Linked DNA regions of Homo sapiens. The protein of the gene in region 5 purifies or fractionates together with the protein of the main gene of each other region. This does not show direct contact. Each region holds a gene or a part of one and is shown on either strand. Other genes may lie near its edges.

Region 1 (4,518 bases), on a different chromosome or scaffold from region 5:
TACTGTCAATGCTGATTTTGATATTTGGTAAGGACTGATTTATTTACATCTTGTGTGTGCCTCAATTTCCCTAATATGGTCTGAGCCTGTAGATAACACCTTACTTTATTTATAGTTGGGTCAATTCTTCAAGATGTTTAACGCTCTCCATGTTTATTTCTTGTGGTTGACTATACTTTCCATGGTAGGAAGTCCTGAACTTCTGCTACTACTGTAGGTCTTATCTTTAGGCTTGTGGATGCTTAATAAGAACACTGAGATGATCTAAGAGTGCAGGACATTTAATTAAAAAAAAATTTTTTTTAAGAGACAGAGTTTTGCTCTGTTGCCCAGGTTGGGGTGCAGTGGTGAGATGGCAGCTCACTGCAGCCTCAAACTCCTGGGCTCAAGCAATTCTCCCAGATTCTCCCACCTCAGCTTCCTAGGTAGCTGAGACCACAGACGAGCCACCGGCCCAGCTAATTTTTGCATTTCTTGTAAAGAAGGGGTCTTACTGTGTTGCCTCGTCTCCATGAGGCTGGTCTCGAACTCCTGGACTCAATCGATCCTCCCACCTCAGCCTCCCACAGTGCTGGGATTACAAATCTGAGCCACCACACCTACCAGCAGAAACTTTTTTTCAAGAGGAGACTTTGGATTTCAAGGTGACCTCCCCCACCCCGCCCACAGTAATATCTGTGACCCAGTGCACAACACAAGTGCCTATGACTGAATAAAATATTTCACTAAATATTTATTTCACTATTCGAGATGTGCCTGGTATCTCTATTTCTTTCTTTCTTTTTTTTCTTTTTTTGGAGACAGAGGAGTGATCTCGGCTCACTGCAACCTCCGCCTCGCAGGTTCAAGCGATTTTCCTGCCTCAGCCTCCTGAGTAGCTGGAATTAGAGGCGCTCGCCACGACGCCCAGCTAATTTTTGTATTTTTAGTAGAGACGGGGTTTCGCCATGTTGTCCAGGCTGGTCTTGAACTCCTGACCTCAGGTGATCCGCCCGCCTCGGCCACCCAAAGTGCTGGGATTACAGACGTGAGCCACTGTGCCTGGCCATCTAACTCTATTTCACAGAAAACTGGAACCACCACACGCACCTGTACCCCTTCCAAGTAGAAACCAGCTAATTTGGTTTTACGAATCACTAAAGGCCGACTGAAAACGCTCTTCTAGCAGTCTTCGCTGCTACTCCATCTATCACAGCCCATCCGAAAAGCGGCGGTAGCAGCTGGGAAGGCCGCGGCCGGAGGCTGTCACAGAGCAGCACTCGCGCTTCGGCCCGCAAGATGGAGCGTTTCCCTCCAGGGAAGCAGCGCCGCACCTATCCACAGCCCCCACTCGGTGGATGATGCAGGACTCGGCCCATTTCCCTGCCCTCCAGCTTTCTCAACGTCAGCCCCGCCCCCTTATCTTTCCTCGGCGAGTTTAGTTTCGCCCCGCCAAGTGGGCAGAGCGCCGAACGATCGATGCTTTCTTCCGCGCCCCGAGAGCCGCCATTTTTGAGAGCGGGGGAGGAGAGACAAGCAGGGGCGGCAGAGGCTCAACGGGATGCTGACTGGGTTTTGCTTTTCGTCCCAGCCTTGTGGGGCCGGGACGGAAGAACCCATCAAAGCCCTTCCTCCCGCCGCCTCTCCGGAATGAGGTCTCAGCACCCGCGCGGGACAGCACCCTTCCTCCTGCGACAGTGAGTGGCGACCCGTGGCGCGACTGCCGGGCGCCCGCGCGCGCCCCCGCGCGCTCCTTCGCTGTCAGTTACCCCGCGCGCCTCCGCCCCTCTCCCGCCGGCCCCGCGCTCGGCGCAGACTCGTTTGTTTGTTTCTGCAGGAGCCCAAGAAGAGGCCGAAACCGAGACCATGCCAGGGAAGCTGAAGGTGAAAATCGTGGCCGGGCGCCATTTGCCAGTGATGGACCGTGCTAGTGACCTGACTGATGCCTTCGTGGAGGTTGGTGCAGGGTCCTGCCCCTCAAAACACAGGGAGCGCCAAGCCCTGTGAAGGATCTACCCACCTCGCCCCCAGCCCCTCAGCCTATTCCCCCCTCGACTGCCCTCCCTTCGGCCGTGGTTGTCCAGCTCTCCCACGAGGGATGACCGCCGAGACCTCAGTGTGTGCGATGGGTGCACGGCTTGCAGGCGTCCGCGGCACAGTCCGCTGCGCGGGGAGGCTTGTACTGTTGTGCATGCGGGGGTGACCCTGATGTCAGGACTCATTAACAGGCCACCTGCCACTCAGGAGATCCCAAGGCGTGGCCGCGCAGCCACCGACACACTCACACACATACACACACACACACACAAATGCCGGAATGACTCTGATGTCAGGACTCATTAACAGGCCACCTGCCACTCAGGAGATCCCAAGGTGTGGCCCCGCAGCCACTGAAACACACACACACACAGGCACACACACACCCTTGGAAGGGGTGGCCAGAGTGCTGGACATCATGTTTAAGAAGGTGCATGAAGCCCTTTATGGGCACTTGGAGTCCCACAGTGCGAGGAAATCCACTCTCATGCCTAACATTTTGTGAATCTGCCATGCACGTTCTAAAACACAACTGCAACACTTCCTGCTCTTGTATAGGCTGGTAGGTCTGATGAGGTGTTTCAGGGTAATTTAGCGCCTTGAGGTAGGAAGTCATTTAATTGCCATGGACTTAAATTGCAAAATTGCTTTTTAAGTCTAATGATTAGTTTAAAAGTCATGCAAATTAGTAAAGGCCTACGGCCGGAAGGTAATAACCCAGAGTCTGAAAGAAGCCAAGTAAAGATTGTAATAAAAATTGGCGTGATGAGCCAGAGCATTAGAGCAGCAATCATTTGGGCTATTAGTGCTTAGAATTGATGGATAGATATATCATAATATATAGCTCGATTTCATCTCAATATTCCTGATGTTTCCTAAATGTTCTCTAACCGAATAATTACAGTTCACTGCCTCCCCTGCCCATTGTCATGGTGATTCTTAATCACTTCATTTGAGAAAGTTCTTGAGTGCTCTTGTGCCAGATGTTAGGTGATAGGAATCCACAAATAACTAAAACATAGTGTTTGCTTTCCGGTAGTTCAGACATTGACCCACACAGCCTATTTAATAACTAATAGGTAACGTGTTGAATTTAATAATTGCCAGATCTGTACTAAGTACTTTTAAATTCTTAGTTTTCACAACAGTCCTGCTATAGGAGTATTGTTATTGTCCCATGTTACAGTGGATGTAACTGAGGCCCAGGAAGGGTAAATAATTTGCTTAAGGTTACATAGCTTGCAAACCTCCACAGCCTGACAGTTTGTTCTCTTAACCACTCTGCTAATACGGCCTCACCAAAGTGATGAGTATTGTATTAGAATATGGAAAGAATTCTGTCTCTGAAGGTTGAGAAAGGCTTCTTGTGAAAGTGACATTTGAAGTGGGCCTTGAAGGACACCCAGGATTTTACCAGGCAAAGGGAACATCAAAGGCAAAGGCATAGACTGGGATATATAGTATGTTCAGGAAACTGCCTTAGTTTAGTACGTGTCTGGAGGAAAGGGTATGAGATATGTGGGTAGTGGAGCTTGTTAGGGATGAGGCTGGAAAGCCCCATTTTCTATAAAACCTCATTTTCTGTAATATTTATAAGGAGCGACAAGGAAGCTGAATGCAGGTCACTGCAGCCTCCAACTCCTGGCCTCAAGCCATCCTCCTGCCTCTCCCGCTTCGGCCTCCCAAAGTGCTGGGATTATGGGCCTGAGCCACCACGCCTGGCCAGGGGAGTTTTTTAAGCAGAAATAAAATAAGATCATGTTTGTATTAGTTTGTTTCTTTATAGGATGGCCTGAATGGGGATGCTATTGATGGACTAGACAGATGGGAAGTGTGGCAGGGAGATCAGTTAAGAAGGTGGTAAAATTATCCAGGTAATATGTGGGAATGGGAATAGGAATGGATTTGAACAGAAAGATTTGTGGGACATTTCTTAGGTTAAAATAGTCAGGCCTTGATAACTAGGTGGATTTTGCTGGTGAGGAAGGGGGCTGATTCAGGGGTTACTTATTACTTCCTTCTTTGAACAAATTGAGTGTCTGCCGTTTGCCAGGCTCTGGGCTAGTTACTGGTCTAGCCGATGTATATACATGGTGAATAAGACAGACTTGGTTCCTTCTCTTAATTCAGCTTATATTTTAGTGGGAGAGACAGATGTTTAAAAGGTAAATAAATTATTAAATATATAGTTACAAGTTGGGATGGGTGCCATGAAAGGGAACAATAGAAAGAGAACAACAGGGAACACCTACTTTAGGTTGAGTAATCAGGGGAGGCCCCTGAGAAAAGTGTTTGTCAAAACCAAGATCTGCTGGATGAGAAGGAGCCTGCTGCTGAGGGAGCATATTTGTGTGTGTAGGGGAGTGGGTGGACAGAAGGTAACCCGGAGATCTCATGTAGAGATTTGGTGTGTTTTAAGAAGTGAAGGAAAATGCGTGTGGCTGGCACGTAGTCAGTGAAGGGAAGAGTAGTATAAGATAAAGTTGGAGAGTTAATCAAAGA
Region 2 (4,062 bases), about 55 Mb from region 5:
ACCCAGGAGGCGGAGGTCACAGTGAGCCATGATCATGCCATTGCATTCCAGCCTGGGCGACAGAGTGAGACTCTGCCTCAAAATGAAAAAAAAAAAAAAAAAAGAAGAAGAAGAAGAAAGAAAGCATTTAAATAGTGAACATTGGGATATCAATGTTTCGCAAAGGGACATTTCATGTAGAGGTGTGCTGGTCAACCCATGAGCTAATTAGGTAGGGAATAAATCACTCTGAAGTCTTCTTCATGGAGTTGGTCATTTTGGTCATTGGGTCATGTGGAACAAAGATGCTGATTCATGTCTGTTGCAAAATAGTTTGAGTTTGATATATTACTGTTAGAAGATTTAACTCAGAAACCAGGAAAGAAATCAAGGAACAAAAAATTAAATCAAGAAAGAAAAAGTACCATGACAAATTCATTATAGTCATTGTAGTTCTATTTTTATAAGACTGGGCTCTACTTTGCCATTTTAAGCTAAACTGATGCACAGTTAAGCATTATTAGTTGAAATATGCTGTGATCTCAATTCCTATTTAAATTGTAAGGTCTTCTAATAGATGGTGTTGTTGGAGTTCAGATACACATGAATTTCATTTTGCTAGAAATTTGCTCCTTTTAATGTTGGGGACTTAAAAGACACCCAAGGAAAAGAAGTCATCCAAAGATATAATAATGAGAACCGGAAAAGTATTTTGTTAAATTTGTATGTGTCATTAAGATAGGACCTTTATGATTTTGATGTTAAACAAATGTAAGATAAACAGCTTACAAAAACTGTGGCCATCTTGGATTGTGCTGTGAGACTTCCAAGCAGAGACAAAAAGACTTTCACCTGCCTCCAGCTGGACTTCAGAACTTCGTTTCCTTAGGGTTCTTGACAGTGTTTGTATGAAACAAACCCTGTTCTGTGCTGTGTACGATGAGTAAGCTTCCCAAGTTAAAATTATTGCTCCACACCACAGATTTCAGATTCCAAGTGGAACAGAAGTCCAAAGTTGCTGTTTATAAACTTCTAAGGGTCGATTGTACCTTTCAATGGTGTCCACCCTGTGTTGACATACAGCAAAACCGAAGGGCTCTTGAAACTTCTAACCACTTTCTGAATTACAGCGAAGAATATTCTTTGCATGGTATCAAAGTTCTACAATGTCTCAGTAATTTTACATATTGAAAAAAGTCATTGATTTCCATATTCAGTCCTCTGCGCTGTCTTCTCATTTCAAGTAGTCTCATGTTCCATGTATTATTACGTTATTTGAGGAATTAAAAAAAAAAAAAAAAGAACTGGGGAATCTCCAAGAGCTGGCGGGAATATTGGCTTTGAGAAAGGAACCTTAGAATTCAAACGTAATGTTTTACCTAAAAAGGAGTCCAGTTTCCAACACTTGGGCTGGGAACGACAGGCTATGGTTGCCCAGGATCTGAAGTACAGAGGAAATTGCTTGTCCTTCTGGTGGGAGAGTTTGTCTCTAGAGGATCAGGAGGATCAGGAGGGTCAGGAGAAGGGCAGGGTGTGGCCGGGAGGAAGGGGCATGGTTAGAGATTTCTTTTCTTGATCATTTTCATCCCAGTTCAGCACTGAGTTCAGATTTCCCTTCCTTCCTTCCTTCCTTCCATCTGTCCTTCCTTCCTCCTTTCCTCCCTCTCTCCCTCCCTCCTCCCCCTGTCCCTCTCCTTCCTCCTTCCTCCCTCTCCCTCTCTGTCTCTCCCCCCTACCTTCCTTCCTTCCTTCCTCCCTCGCTCCCTCCCTCCTTTTTTCTTTTCTTTTCTTTCTCTCTGTCTCTCTCCCTTTCTCTTTCTCTCTCCTTCTCTCTCTCTCCCTCCTTTCCCTTCCCTTCCCTTCCCTTTCCCTTCCCTTCCCTTCCTTTCCCTTTCCCTTTCCCTTTCCTGACAGAGTCTTGCTCTTGTCACCCAGGCTGGAGTGCAATGGCGCGATCTCAGCTCACTGCAACCTCCACCTCCCAGGTTCAAGCGATTCTCCCTCCTCAGCCTCCCGAGTAGCTGGGATTACCTGCCATCATGCCTGGCTAATTTTTGTATTGTTGTAAAGACAAGGTTTCACCGTGTTGGCCAGGCTGGTCTCTTAACTCCTGACCTCACGTGATCTGCCCACCTCGGCCTCCCAAAGTGCTGGGATTATAGGCGTGAGACACCACTGCCGATCCTCTCTCTTTCTTTCTCTCTCTCTTTCTCTTTCTTTGTTTTCTCTCTCTCTCTTCTTTCCCTCCCCTCCCCTTCCCTTCCCTTCTCTGCTGTGTTTCCATTCTAGAAGTTCTTTCCTTCATCCCCTCGTTGCTCCTGCAGAGCATTTACTCTGACAGTGCCCCCCACCCAAGGCTCGTGGCTGCCTGGCTGTTGGATGACAGTAATGCATGCACTGCACGTCTCCCCCAGAGGAGTAATGCCGGGGACCATTTGTAGATGGATGGGAAACTGAAGCAAAGCGTGCTTCAATTTAGATTCCCCAAACTGCCAGAGCCCCAATAAAACTAGACAACTGTTGTTACCTTTAACAGAGGGTTTGCTTCTATTTTCATGTGTAACACACAAGCCCATGGCCTTGACTGGGCTTGGAGGAGGATTGTTAGTGTTTAGGTATTGTAGTCTCTGAGGCAGATGCACGTGCGTCTGCTCAAGTTTAACATCAGCAGCCGCTCTCTCATATTCTGTGTCTGTCTTTGCTGTCGTAGAATCCCAGTGTTCCAATGCAGAAGTTGCAGGATATCCAGAGAGCAATGGAGCTGCTATCCGCATGCCAGGGCCCAGCCAGGAACATTGATGAGGCTGCAAAGCACAGATACCAGTTTTGGGACACACAACCGGTACCAAAACTAGGTAAGTTTTTCTGCTTTTCTCTTTTTTTCCCCACAAACAAAGCTGGATGAACAACAACAACAACAACAACAACAACAACAAAACACAAAGAGTGTTAACTTCACATGTATCATTTATTTCATACCACAGATTGGAAATCTATGCAAGACTAATATTTTTCTTCTGAAAATATAAATATTAGATAGTGACATTGGCTTTTGATAACCATTATTTTAGTCCAATTTCTATCCCAATAAAAACATCCAATTTCCCCACACTTGAAACATTACTAGTATTATTATTATTTTTGAGATAGGGTCTCACTCTATCACCCAGGCTGGAGTGCAGTGGCATGATCATAGCTCACTGCAGCCTCCACCTCCTGGGCTCAAGTGATCCATCCTCCCATGTCAGCCTCCCATGTATCTGGGACCACAAGTGCACACCACCACACCTGGCTAATTTTTGTATTTTTTTGTAAAGACGCTGTTTCAGTATGTTGCTTGGGCTGGTCTCGAACTCCTGGGCTCAAGTGATCCACCTGCCTTGGCCTCCCAAAGTGCTGGGTTACAGGTGTGAGCCACCGCACCTAGCCCATTAGAGTATTAAAAATGTATATAAGGTTCTGTGATGGAAGGACCAGGCCCTGAAGGTCCCTCATGGAGCAGGTGTCTGTTGAGTGTCTGTTATTAAATGCCAGGCATAGTCCAGGGCACACACCTGGAAACAGTGGTGGAAAAGTAGGACAAAAGGTGGCCAGGCTGGGGAGGAGCGGCCACACTGAGGTAGAGAAAGGCTTTAGTTAAGCAACAGATGCTGGGAGAAAGTGACGTGTGATGCGTAAGCTTCTGTCGGGAATTCCAAGGGGCCCGTCCCTTGAGGACCAGAGGGCCTCAAGCCTAAGGAAGGCACCAGGAAGGCCCTGAGCTGAGGCCTGCCCCGGTCATCATGGCCAGAGCACTGGGAGCAGGGGGCAGGGAGGGTGTGGAGAGGGGCCGAGGCAGGCAGCAGCCATGGGGAAGAGCCTGGGTTTTAGTCCTACCATGTTGGGAAGCTCTGCAGAGAAGGACTTGGAAAACTCTTCTTGGTGGAAATCACTAGAAATTGTGATGGCCTGAACTACGCTGCTAGCAGTTTAGATGGGGAGAAGTAACCAGCCTTGAAATTATTTTTAGGTTTTGCTGGGAGGGGCAGAGGTCACCGCAGCCCTTTCCTCTCCCAGTTTGTGGAAATGCAGTAAAAAGAACAC
Region 3 (4,062 bases), on a different chromosome or scaffold from region 5:
TTGTTTCTACTTTTTGGCCATAATAAATAATGTTGTGGATACTCATTTACAAGTTTTTGTATGGTATATATGCTTTCAATTTTCTTGGATGTATACCTAGATGTGTAATTGCTGGGTTATATGGTAATTCTGTTTACTTTCTGAGGAACTGCTTGACTGTTTTCCATAGCTGCTGCACTGTTTTACATTCCTTCTAGCAATGTAGGGTTCCATTTTCTAGGGTAACCCTTCTACATTGCTAGAAGGGTTACATTCCTTCTAGCAATGTAGGGTTATAGCAATGTAGCAATGAGGGTTCCATTTTCTCCACATCCTTGCCAACACTTGTTAATGTTTGTCTTTTTGATGATAGCCATCCTAGTGGCTGTGAAGTGATATCGCATTGTGATTTTCATTTGTATTTCATCTTATCATGTTTTTATTGGCCATTTGTATATAATTTTCTCATTTAATGTTTTAAATGATGCTGTAAGGTAGGTTTATTCCTATTTTACTGCCAGGAAACTAAAGTGCAAAGTTGTTTAATCATTTGCTTGTTTTTTTAACCTTACAGTTAATAAGAGGCAAGGTCTGAGTGTAAACTCAGGTCTTCTGACTCTACTTCCTGCACTCAATGAGGCATACAGAAATTAAATTGTGTTTGTGAATGTCTGGTTGATTAGTGACAAAGTGAGGGAAAAATAAAAAAAATCAAACCAAACAATAACAAACCATAAGGTGTTGTGGCAACACTGCCACATATTCATCAGATTTTATTACGCATTTTCAAATAAATTCCTTTTCTTCTGTCATAATAAGGTAGGTCTGCTTTCCACATTTCCAATGGGGAAACAGAGTCAGAGTGATTCAACCTAGTAACAGCTTCTTAATAGCATAGCCGATCCTAGAACCCACTGTTTCAGAATTTGAATAGTATGTATGTGTATATATATAGAGAGAGTAAAAGCTGAAAATCTCCCTTCACTTTTTGTCTTTTTCCCCTTCTTCACTCCTAAGACCACTTCCATCTTGGAGAAACTGCTGTTGACAGTTTGAGGTTTATATTTCCAAACCTGTATCTTTGCATTTATGTGTGTATTTATCTATAAATACACATTTCCATATTTTACCATACATACAGACATGTTTCTTTTCATAATGTTTTTTCTTTTACAAATGGGATTATACTACACATATTCCTTTGTTTTTCACTTAAATATGTTAAACTTTTCCATCTGTAATTACAAAGGATAAATCTAATATTATGTTTTCATTTAAGTTTGCTATCCATGCCTGGCTTCGGTGTCAAGATGAAGTCAGGATTAAGAATGATTAGGAAACTTTTCACTTTTTTCTGTGCTCTGGAACAGTTTAAAATATCTGCCCTTTAAACGTTTACTAGAAATCATCTGACAACTGTGGGGGCAGAGAGAGATCTGAGATGACCTTTCTAATTTTTTTTTTTCTTTTGAGACAGGGTCTCACTCTGTGGCCCAGGCTGAAGTGCAGTGGTGTGATCACACCTCACTGCAACCTCAACTGCCTGGGCTCAAGTCATTCACCCACCTCAGCCTCCCAGGTGGCTGAGAGTACAGGCATGTGCCACCATGCCCAGCTAATTTTTGCATTTTTTGTAGAGATGAAGTTTCTCAATGTTGCCAAGGCTGGTCTCAAACTCCTGAGCTCAAGCAATCTGCCTACGTTGGCCTTCTTAACATGAGCCATTGCACCTGGCCCGTTTTCTTATTTGTCAAATGACAATAACTCCTACCTCATAAGAGTCTTGAAATATTAAATGATATGTGAGCTAATATATGAAAAGGCTCAGTAGTTGCATCTAACAAAAATGAAAAAAATGTAATGAACTGTAACATGCTATACAAATGTAAATTTGTTACTACAGTTATTATAATTATGTTTTAACCTAATAGGAACAAATTTTTAAGTAGATAGGATGGTGGAGCTAGGGACAGTTTCCACTAATAAATCACAAGTATCTATAAAAATTCACAGGCCATTTGGGATTTGATTCTGGTAGACAATGGTATCTAAATACACTCTTTAAGAAGGATGGTAGGTAAAATCATTGACTAAACAGATCTGGATGAATCTTGTGTTGTCACTTGTTAGCCTTGTGACTGTGGACAAGTTAATTTCTTAGTAACATGAGATAACACTTATAGGGCAGTTATGAAGAAAGACATTAGTTTCTAGCATGTAATAGATGTTCAAAATAGTCAATTTTTTTTTTCTTTGCATGTAGTGAATACCCAACAGTGACAAACCTGAGATGTTGAGTTCTATTAATTTAAGGCTGCTTGGTGAGGTGGAAAGAACATTAAGCCCTAAGTCAGAAGTTTTGTTCTGTCCTATGTTTATTAGCCATTGGCTGTGGATGAGTCGCCTAAGTGCTTAGATCCTTCTGTTTTCCTTACCTATAAAAAAGCTAGAGAACTAAGGCTGGGTGCGGTGGCTCACACCTGTAATCCCAGCACTTTGAGAGGCTGAGGCAGGTGGATCACGAGGTCAGGAGTTCAAGACCAGCCTGGCCAAGATGGTGAAACCCCGTCTCTACTAAAAATACAAAAATTAGTCGGGTGTCGTGGGGGCACCTGTAATCCCAGCTACTCAGGAGGCTGAGGCAGAGAATTGCTTGAACCCGGGAGGTGGAGGTTGCAGTGAGCCGAGATCGCGCCACTGCACTCCAGCCTGGGCGACAGAGTGAGACTCTGTCTCAAAAACAAACAAACAAAAAGCTAGAGAACTAACACTAGGCACTTTACAACCTTATCTCATTTAATCTTTCCAATAATCCTATCAGATAGAGATGATTTCCATTTCCCTTTCTAATAGATAAAGAAACAAAGGTGCAGGAATTGGATTTTCCAAGGTCTACTTGGTGGACTCCCCCAGTCCTGGGAATATTCTTTGGCTCATTACAAGTATTCACTCCTGGGATGATAGGGCATGCCCCTATGTACAGGGAATACCAAGGGGGGAACCTACTATAAACTGAAATACTAAGTGTATGAATGAACTAAGCCAGTGTTGGATGAGACTACTTATTTATTAATGACTTCCATTAATAAAATACAAATAGAGGATTGTTAATGTGTCCCAATGCCAGTGCTTAAGAGTAGTAATTTAAGATGATACTTCATTTTCCCATAATCACCTTATCTAAATAATTTATTACCTACTCCTAATTTCATTTTCAGTTTGACCAGGTAAAGCACAGAAGTAAATTGTAAGTTAGTGGTCAGAGCTGGTTTGATAGTGGTGTGTGTGTGTGTGCATGCATGCACGTGCGTGTGCATGTGTGTGTGAGAGCTGAGAAGTACAGTTCTTCAGCAGCTTGGCATATGCAGAAACTGCACATTCTTGGAAAGAAGTAATCTGCGTTATAATTTAATTGCCTTCTAGTAGATTTGCAGAATCATTTAGAAAATGAACCTGCCTTTGTCAATTGGTTTGTAAAGACCTATTGATTATATTCTTGAAAGATAGTAATATTGTCTTTCCTTTAGTGGGTATTGCCAGAGCTTTTGCTTATGAGTTTCATTTTATTTGATCAGGTTCAGTGATATTGATTTGGTATCCTTGCATGCTTTGTGCTAGGGATGTATGAAACAAAATGCTTTTGAGAGGTCATGAATTGTGATTCAGTAATAGTTTAGAAAGTTTAGGAATTCTATCTATTGGGGCTTCAGTTAGCATGTTTTTGTAGTAGAAGTGGGAATTACTGAGTTTAGGTTAGATAATTTTTATCAGAAAAGTCTTGAATTGCACTGTGTAAATTCTCACTGACGTTGCATCTTTTCTGCAGAATACAAAATACTTTGGAGCTATATATAAGAATTAGAAAACATGGTTCTGTTTTCAAGGAGTTTATAATCTGATTAGGGAGGCAATGAAGGAAGAAACTGAGTAAAAGAATAAAGAGCTCTTAAAGCTTGTGTCTTGTCTTTGTAAAATCAATTTTGCCACATTGGGCTTTGGTAAGGTGTCATAGGTCTCTCCTGAGGGACAATATGAGAAACATCTAACCCTTTGAAGACTGGTGGTTATGTGTCTCCTATATTT
Region 4 (4,062 bases), on a different chromosome or scaffold from region 5:
CAAAATACTACTATTACTTAAATATTTAATGTTTTAAAGATTTGAGGATAAAAGGATATAGATCTGATGGCGTTCATACTAATTGCTGTAGTGTTGATGTTGGAGAGAGGGGTAATGTATCAAGACAGAGCAGACAGACCCTTTACAATGAGAGCAGAAGATATGTTGTTTACTGATTCTACTTTCCCACAAAATGCTAATGCTTTTATAAGTCCCTCCTCCTTATTTTCTAGATTAACTCCTTGTTTCTTCCTCTAAACAGAGGATTATGGCAGACAGGCAAAAAAAAAAAAAACTTTTAAAGCAACTATCTAAGTCCTTACCAAGTTTCTTTAGCACTTTTATTCTAAAGTTATCAAGGTGGAAATTGGGGCCTCTGCCCCACATGTATCTGCTTCATTGGGTTGTATCTTCATACCTGATTAACGGCATATTCTAGGCAAAAGCAAGACCCTAGGCATGCTATGTTTGGCTCTGAATATGTAGGCCTCCCAGGTTTATTAGCTGAACTGGTACATGACCTTGACAGCTTATTTTCCCTAGACTAGAAGCATTCCTAAGGAACCCTGAGCTCTAGGCTATTTGGCCTTCTTAGAATGGGACACTTCCCAAATTGAAGGCAGCCCTAGGTTGCAGAGAGGAGAGAGGAGGGAGAAAGGGAGAGAGGGAGAAAGCAAGTTCCCTTCATCCTCAGTAAATAGAATGAAGAAGGGAAGGACACAGTGAGTCAAGTCTTATCTCAATACCTACTGGGTAAATTGCCTCTCATTCTGAGAAAGTTATAGAAAATGCATCAGGTTATCCTTAACTCACACCTAACAGTCTTGTGAGAAAATCTGTTCAAATAGTTAAAGTAGGAAGAATACTACTAACTAGACCCTTATACGATATGTATTATATGTAGATATGTAGAATGACTTTGTATTGTCTATTAACCTCATTTCTTAAAAAGTGTCAATATTTTTATTAGTGATCCAATAGAGATTATGTTGCATATAAACCCATTTTGTAAATATGAATAAAACCAGACAAGGAGCTCTTGCCTTCCCTTTCTGAAGAGGAGCAGAGATTCCTCAGCTAGGAGTGATGGAGAAGGTGTGGCTCTTTGGCAAGCTGACCAGAGGCCAGTGAAAGATTATTTATTTATTTGGCTGACTATGATACCCTCACTTGTAGCCACACCCCCTGGGTTTGCATTTTTTAAAAACCCCAACAGTGAAATAGTTCTTTTTTCTTTTTCTTTCTTTCTTTTTTTTTTTTTTTGAGACAGAGTCTCTCGCTCTGTCACCATGGCTGGAGTGCAGTGGTGTGATCTTGGCTCACTGCAATTTCCGTTTCCTGGGTTCAAGTTATTCTCCTGCCTCAGCCTCCTGAGTAACTAGGATTAGAGGTGTGTGCCACTACACCTGGCTGATTTTTGTATTTTTAGTAGAGATGGGGTTTCGCCATGTTGGCCAGGCTGGTCTCAAACTCCTGACCTCAGGCGATCTGCCCACTTTGGTCTCCTAGAGTGCTGGGATTACAGGCATAAGCCACCGTACCTGGCCTGAAATAGTTCTTTTTTTCTTATTTTGTAAATATAGATATTATCTTTAGTTTAGAAAATGATGACTAGGTACCATAATACCTATATAGTAATAACCACATTATGTGTCATTTAGTTCCACAAAAATTTAATGTAAAATTCTGCGTTAAGAGCTGTAAGATGCAGTCCCTGTCCTGATCACCCCTAAAATGCTACAGCTTATCTCGTATGTACCTTTCTGTTATGTTTTCTGGTTGTGCATGATTTTTTAAGAAATATCATTACCTTTAATAAGGACCTTTGCTTAGCTGCCAGACTTGTCAACAAAGAAATTTCAGATATCTATAGGCTGTAATTATTGTTAGTGGCTACTGATGCAATATGTAAAGTAGAGGTCTGAAGAAACTAGTTTTGCAACTGGCAGTTTAGGAGATTGGAAGGAATTCCTGAACAGGACATCTGTCAATATTTGGAATGATACTCTTCTATTTAAAAAGAAAAAGTTTCCTGAGAAGTAAATGTAGCACACATACCTAGAGAGTAAAATGTATAAGATGAATTTAAAGAACAACAACAAAAGAAATAACTGTGGATGCATTATCTAGGTTAAGAAATAGAACATACCCGTATTTTGAAACTTAACTTTTTCAGTACTGGTTAGGTGACTCAACTGGTATTTTTCTTCATTCATCACATCTGTGTTTCTTTTCTTTCTGGCCAAATGCAATGTAACATAAATTTCAACTCAGTGAACAAAAGTCATTTGTTATAGAAGTAATATATAGCTGTGAAACACTAGTATTGCACTGTTTCATAACCATAAAAATTCTGGTTACACATATGTAGGATAATTCTGGTTTTATATATATGTATGTGAGTATATACATTTGATATTTACTTTACTCCCTAGCAGAGCTGGTATGTTGCTTGATTTTGGTTGTGCTTCTGCTTAGAATTTTAAAAATTAGAAAGAAGGGCAATAAAGCATCATAATTCCATGCACTGATTTAATGTTATTGGATTCATTTATACCTAAAGAAAATCCTTAGACTACATGATAAAGGTTTACTGGTGGAAAAAAAAAAGATATCCTTTTATGAAGTTAAGATTATACATTAAATTTAATGGAACTCTCTAGTAGAGCTCAATAAAAGGAGATACTTTGCTCTATTTTCAATTAGATATTTGAGTTATTTTTGCTTTATGTGTGCATATTTTGTTTCTCTGACAAAACTGAAAACTTTTAAAGATGCTTTCTCTCTGAAATCGCTAACAATGGGGTGATCACTAATAGGAATTCAGTAAATAGCCATTGAATTGCTACAGAACTACCTCTTACCAAATGCTCTTAACATATGCATATATGTCTATACACTTGGATCCCATTTCTTGGCCAGAAAAGTCTACATATAAATGTAAATTTAATGGTCCATATGCCAAGAAACTAATAACTGTTTTTATTTCTGAGAATGCAGCTAAATATCTACTTACCTACTTTAAATAATCCAGTGAAGAATACCATCCTGTTTGAAAATATTTGTCTTAATTGCTAATCCAGTTACTATGTTTTTAAAAATTTGCCTTTAAAAAAGTAAAGAAAGCTTCAGAATTCATTTTGAATGATATATTTTGGTATATTTCCTATTTTTCTCATAGACTTTGACCACTGAACTTCGGTCTAAGGGTAGTGAAAGGGGAGGTGAAACAGAAAGAATAATGGTTGAGTATGGGAGGGTTATGATTATGAATGGAGATTACAAACATAAATACATCCTGTCATGAGAATATAGGTGTTGTTGATGCGAACAGTCAAACTCTGTAAAATATTTTAAGAGATTTATTCTGAGCCAAATATGAGTGACCATGGCCTGTGACACAGCCCTCAGGTCCTGAGAACATGTGCCCAAGGTGGCTGGGGTACAACTTGGTTTTACATATTTTAGGAAGGCATGAAACATCAATCAAATACATTTAAGAAATACATTGGTTTGGTTCAGAAAGGAGGGACAACTTAAAGCGGGGGTGCTTCCAGGGTATAGGTAAATTTAAACTTTCTGGTTGACATTTGGTTGAGTTTGTCTAAAGACCTGGGATCCATAGAAAGGAATGTTCAGGTTAAAGATAAAGGATTGTGGAGACCAAGTTTTTTTGTGCAGAGGAATCTCTCAGCAGACTTCAGAGAGAGCAGGTTGTAAAATGTTTCTTATCAGACCTAGAAGGGTGCTTGGCTCTTAGTTGATTATCTCCTGGATCTGGAAAGAAAGGAAGGAAAACAAAGCGGGAAGGGGAGGCTCTGTAGAATGTGGATTTTTCCCACAAGAAACTTCGCAGGGCAATTTCAGGGTATGGCAAGGAAATGTATTTAGGAATTAAATATTTTCTTCTTGTCTTAGAATGTTATGCCAGAGTCAGATTGAAAAGTAAGTCACAATATACAGGGTTAAATAAAACCCATCTGATGAGAATTTATGGTTTGTAGGGCATGACTCCCCAGACCCCTTAGGTGGGAATTTGGGCAAGATTAAAAAATCAGAGCT
Region 5 (4,062 bases):
CAACCTCGACCTCCTAGGCTCAAGCGATCCTCCCACCTCAGCCTCCTGATATCAGGGACCACAGGCATGTGCCACCATGCCTGGCTAATTTTTGTATTTTTTGTAGAGATGGGGTTTCACCATATTGCCCAGGCTGGTCTGGAACTCCGGAGCTCAAGCAATCTGCCTGCATTGGCCTCCCAAAGTGTTGGGATTAGAGGTGTGAGTCAGCCTACATCTCATTTTTTTTTTTTAAAAGATGGGGTCTCATCTAGGCTGGAGTGCAGTGGTGCAATCATAGCTCACTGTGAACTTACATCTTAAGTGGTAAATTGTATATGTGAATTCTATTTTGATTAAAAAATTAGATGGTAAGCGGTCTGTCCTATTATTAAAGACATTATTTCTGCAAAAATGACATATGCTTGTTTGAAAAAAATTCAAACAATACAAAAGCTTAAGGAAGAAAATGAAAACATTATCTATGACCACTATTAGCACTTTGGTTCAGACAGCAGGTTTGATGTGTTGAGAATTGAACTTGGGCAAGTTGTTGAACTTTTTTCCAAAATAAGGAGAAAAAACTCATACCTTAAATCGAAGATATGGGCAAAAGTGCAACAGATGCTAACTGCTGTAATCATTACCTGTATATGTGTATACATACCGAGGTGGATGTGTCTTATTGGCCATAAATGGGATTAGATCTTTCATGTGGTTCTGTGGCCTGACTTTTTGGGACTGGGCAAACTAATCTGCAACATATATTTTATATATATATATATAAAACGTGGCTGCTGTGTATTCATTGCTACTCTGTGCCAGGCACCATGCTAAAATGCTTTACGTAAATGATCTCATTGAATCTTTTCTACAGCTCGAAATCACAGTGGCTTACCCCTGTAATTCCAGTGCTTCGGGAGGCTAAGGCAGGAGGATCCCTTGAGGGGCTAGGAGTTCAAGATCAGCCTAGGCAACATAGTGAGACCCTCATCTCTACAAAAAAAAAAAAAAAAATTAGCCAGCTCAGGAGTTCAAGGTTATAATGAGTTATGATCATGCCACTGCATTCTGGCCTGGGTGATAGAGCAAGACCCTGTCCCTAAGAAAATTAAAAATAAGTAAATAAATAAATAAATATTGCCTGACTTTTTCTTTTCTTTTTTTTACTTTTGAGACAGGGTCTCACATTGTTGCCCAGGCCGAAGTGCAGTGGTATGAAGCACTGATCCATGCTACAACTTGGATGAACCTTGAAAACATGTTTTGTGTAAATCAGATTGTGTATGTGTGTCTTTGTGTGTGTGTGTTGTGGGAGGGAGCAAAGGTAAAGTTACTCACTGCAGCCTCAAACTCCTGGGCTCAAGCAGTCCTCCTGCCTTTGCCTCCTGAAGTGCTAGGATTATAGGCAGGAGCCACCACACCCAGCCCTTGCCTGACTTTTTCATGGACAGACTTTTTGTATAAAAACGTCATTCACAGGCTGGGCACAGTGGCTCGCACCTATAATCCCAGCACTTTGGGAGGTCGAGGCAGGCCGATCACTTGAGGTCAGGAGTTCGAGACCAGCCTGGCCGACACGGCGAAACCCTGACTCTACTAAAAATACAAAAAACAATTAGCCGGGCATGATGGCACATGCCTGTAGTTCCAGCTACCTGGGAGGCTGAGGCAGGAGAATTGCTTGAACTCAGGAGGCAGATGTTGCAGTCAGTGAGCTGAAATTGAGCCACTGTACTCCAGCCTGTGCAATAGAGTGAGACTCCATCTCAAAAACAAAACAAAACATCACTCACCCTTTAAAAACAACTGGCTACACAGTACTGCATTGTATGGGTTTATAATATTTTATCCTGTAGCCTCTCATTGGTGGCAGTTTCCATTGATTGATGGAGTGTCACACAGGTGGAGGTTTGCACAGCACTACTGCTATGTTAGAACATACAACTGGGCATCCACTAATTCCATACGTGCATTTTCATCTCCTACAGGGTGTGTGGCTGGAAATGCAGCTCCATGGCTTAAGCCCTTGCTTTAGGTGTCTGGCCAAGTAGATCATGGCCAAGCAGAGGGGAGTTCACTGTTTTCTGGGGCCAGGCAAGAACCGACACTGGCAGAGCCAAAGAGAGTCGGCATGTCCAAGAGTATTGGGCAAGGGGCTGCCAAAGAGGCAGGGTGAAATCTGCTGGAGAGTCACTGGCCTCCCTATTCCACAAGTAAGCGTGGCAGGGGTCAGTAGAGGAGAGAGAAGAGAGAGAGAGCAGATTGCAGGAGAGGCCTCAGGCAGCCTGAAGAGGAAAAGTGCCTCCCCTCCCTGGCCCTGCTCTGGTCTGGGTGTCCCCTCAGGCCCCAGGCCCTTCACAGGGAACCCCAGATAAGCAATTTGCCTTCCTTGGGTGAGGCAAGAGTTTGCCCTTTCGGGGAAGCAGGTTGATGATACTAGGGGCCTGGGGGTCAAGGGCTTGGCTCCTTTGGTCAACTCATTGCCCCTGAGGTCCACTCTGGGGTCACTAGACTTTCTTTCCCTGGAGGAAACCCCATGAAGGGCCCGGAGCAGGCTTGTATGTCCACCTGATTGTCAAAGCTGCCCTGGCATGGCAGGCTGTCTGTCTGTCGGCCCCTGTCACCTGTCCTCTAAGCCTCTCCACCTTCTGCCACAGGTGCCCTGAACTCTACCTGCCTCCTCCCTTCCTGCCACTGGGCCTCTGGCCCAAGTTGTTTCCTCTGCTAGGAAGGCCCCCTGATCTCAGCTCTTTTTCAGGGCTCTAGGCTGTCCTTTTTGAGTGTCCCTGGGTGCTCCAGTGTGACCTGACGCACAGTGGACTCCCCTGTCCCTATCCCCGGCCAGCTGCGTAGCCCCTCTCAGGGGCCATGCCCAGCTAACTTGGAAGTGGGGCTTTCTGGGTGTTTTCTTGACCTCATCCCTGGCTGACAGCCCCAAGGGTAAGACCCAGCACAGAGGGTTGCACGCTGCCAGGGGCTGGTGAAACACACGCCACCCACGGCCTGCCTCATCACTGCCTACATTCTCAGGCCCTGCGCAGCTCCTGGTGTGCACTGCTACCTCTGGCTGGGCCTGTGGGCCCTCCTGGGTCCTGGTCCCTAGGAGACATTCCCTTCTGGCCCAGTTGGCAGATTCAGCCTGAGGTACGCTTGGGATTAGCTCTAGACAACCCTTCTGAGGGCTTAGAGGAGCCAGGGTGGCCCTGCCTGCCGGGGGGTTGTCTTGGGTCCTAATCTCTACGAGGGCTCAGCCTCCTCATCTGTGAAATGGGTATGTTCAAGCCTCAATGCTTTGGGGACCATTTGACCCACGAGAAACAACTTTAAATTCCCTCCAATCCATTGTGTCAGTGCCCTCCGTCCGCTCTACTGTCCGCCCCCAGGGGAGAAGTTAGGCAGTGGGCATTTGAACACCAATGGGAACAGTGCCCGGAGTTCTAACCAAAAGCTGCCCCATAAGTGTGGGATGATTTGGGGACCGTCTTGGGGAACCACCACCATGTCTTGGAAACCAGTGTGTACGAGGACAGCTCAGGATATTATAGCTGGTTGGGCCTTATAGTCCCCTCCCATTATAGGGGGTAAATTGAGGCCTAGAGAGGGAAGGGGTTGTGCCCCAGACCCGCAAAGATGATCAGGGCAGTGCAGTGGCCTTCCAGCGGCCTGAGGGTCCCAGATGAGCTGGAACACACTTCCTTATGAGGCTGTTCAGTGGCTTGATGTCTATCCTTCAAGGTTGACCTCAGAGTCTACTTCCTCCTTCGCTGACACCCGCTCCAGTCCCCCTTCCTGAAGCCCACAGCAGCTGTTGAGCCTCTGGGGCTGCTTTCTGTATAGTGTGAGTTTTGTTTCTTTTTCTCAGCATCTCCCCCCAGCAGCCTGGCTTATTTCTGCCTCTCTTTAGGGCTCAGCACAGGCCAGGAGGAGGGTTGATTGCTTGTCACCTCTCAGGGTCTCAGCTGCAGTCAAGAGTGCCCCTCAATGGGCTGTGCGGCTCCTCCCACACCAGCAGCCCTCTGCCTGCCTGAGGCCCACACTGCAAGCATCCTAATTTGGGGTTCTGCTGGGCTGGAGGCAAGG

Evidence for each region.
Region 1: the proteins of AIFM2 (region 5) and C2CD5 purify together in Homo sapiens (affinity purification with mass spectrometry; one large-scale study listed by BioGRID and IntAct). This does not show direct contact.
Region 2: the proteins of AIFM2 (region 5) and NMT2 purify together in Homo sapiens (affinity purification with mass spectrometry; one large-scale study listed by BioGRID and IntAct). This does not show direct contact.
Region 3: the proteins of AIFM2 (region 5) and SESTD1 purify together in Homo sapiens (affinity purification with mass spectrometry; one large-scale study listed by BioGRID and IntAct). This does not show direct contact.
Region 4: the proteins of AIFM2 (region 5) and ECHDC1 purify together in Homo sapiens (affinity purification with mass spectrometry; one large-scale study listed by BioGRID and IntAct). This does not show direct contact.

The regions. Positions count from the first base shown.
Region 1 is NC_000012.12:22,541,478-22,545,995, reverse strand, and holds the start of C2CD5 (C2 domain-containing protein 5), read left to right. Parts: upstream 1-1,453; 5' UTR 1,454-1,676; intron 1,677-1,798; exon of another isoform or gene 1,799-1,816; 5' UTR 1,817-1,845; coding exon 1,846-1,935; intron 1,936-4,518. UniProt on the Homo sapiens protein: Required for insulin-stimulated glucose transport and glucose transporter SLC2A4/GLUT4 translocation from intracellular glucose storage vesicle (GSV) to the plasma membrane (PM) in adipocytes.
Region 2 is NC_000010.11:15,134,046-15,138,107, reverse strand, and holds part of NMT2 (glycylpeptide N-tetradecanoyltransferase 2), read left to right. Parts: exon of another isoform or gene 1-2,689; coding exon 2,690-2,834; intron 2,835-4,062.
Region 3 is NC_000002.12:179,257,903-179,261,964, reverse strand, and holds part of SESTD1 (SEC14 domain and spectrin repeat-containing protein 1), read left to right. Parts: intron 1-4,062. UniProt on the Homo sapiens protein: May act as the primary docking protein directing membrane turnover and assembly of the transient receptor potential channels TRPC4 and TRPC5.
Region 4 is NC_000006.12:127,336,976-127,341,037, reverse strand, and holds part of ECHDC1 (ethylmalonyl-CoA decarboxylase), read left to right. Parts: intron 1-2,149; exon of another isoform or gene 2,150-2,238; intron 2,239-4,062. UniProt on the Homo sapiens protein: Decarboxylates ethylmalonyl-CoA, a potentially toxic metabolite, to form butyryl-CoA, suggesting it might be involved in metabolite proofreading. Acts preferentially on (S)-ethylmalonyl-CoA but also has some activity on the (R)-isomer.
Region 5 is NC_000010.11:70,126,061-70,130,122, reverse strand, and holds part of AIFM2 (ferroptosis suppressor protein 1), read left to right. Parts: intron 1-4,062. UniProt on the Homo sapiens protein: A NAD(P)H-dependent oxidoreductase that acts as a key inhibitor of ferroptosis.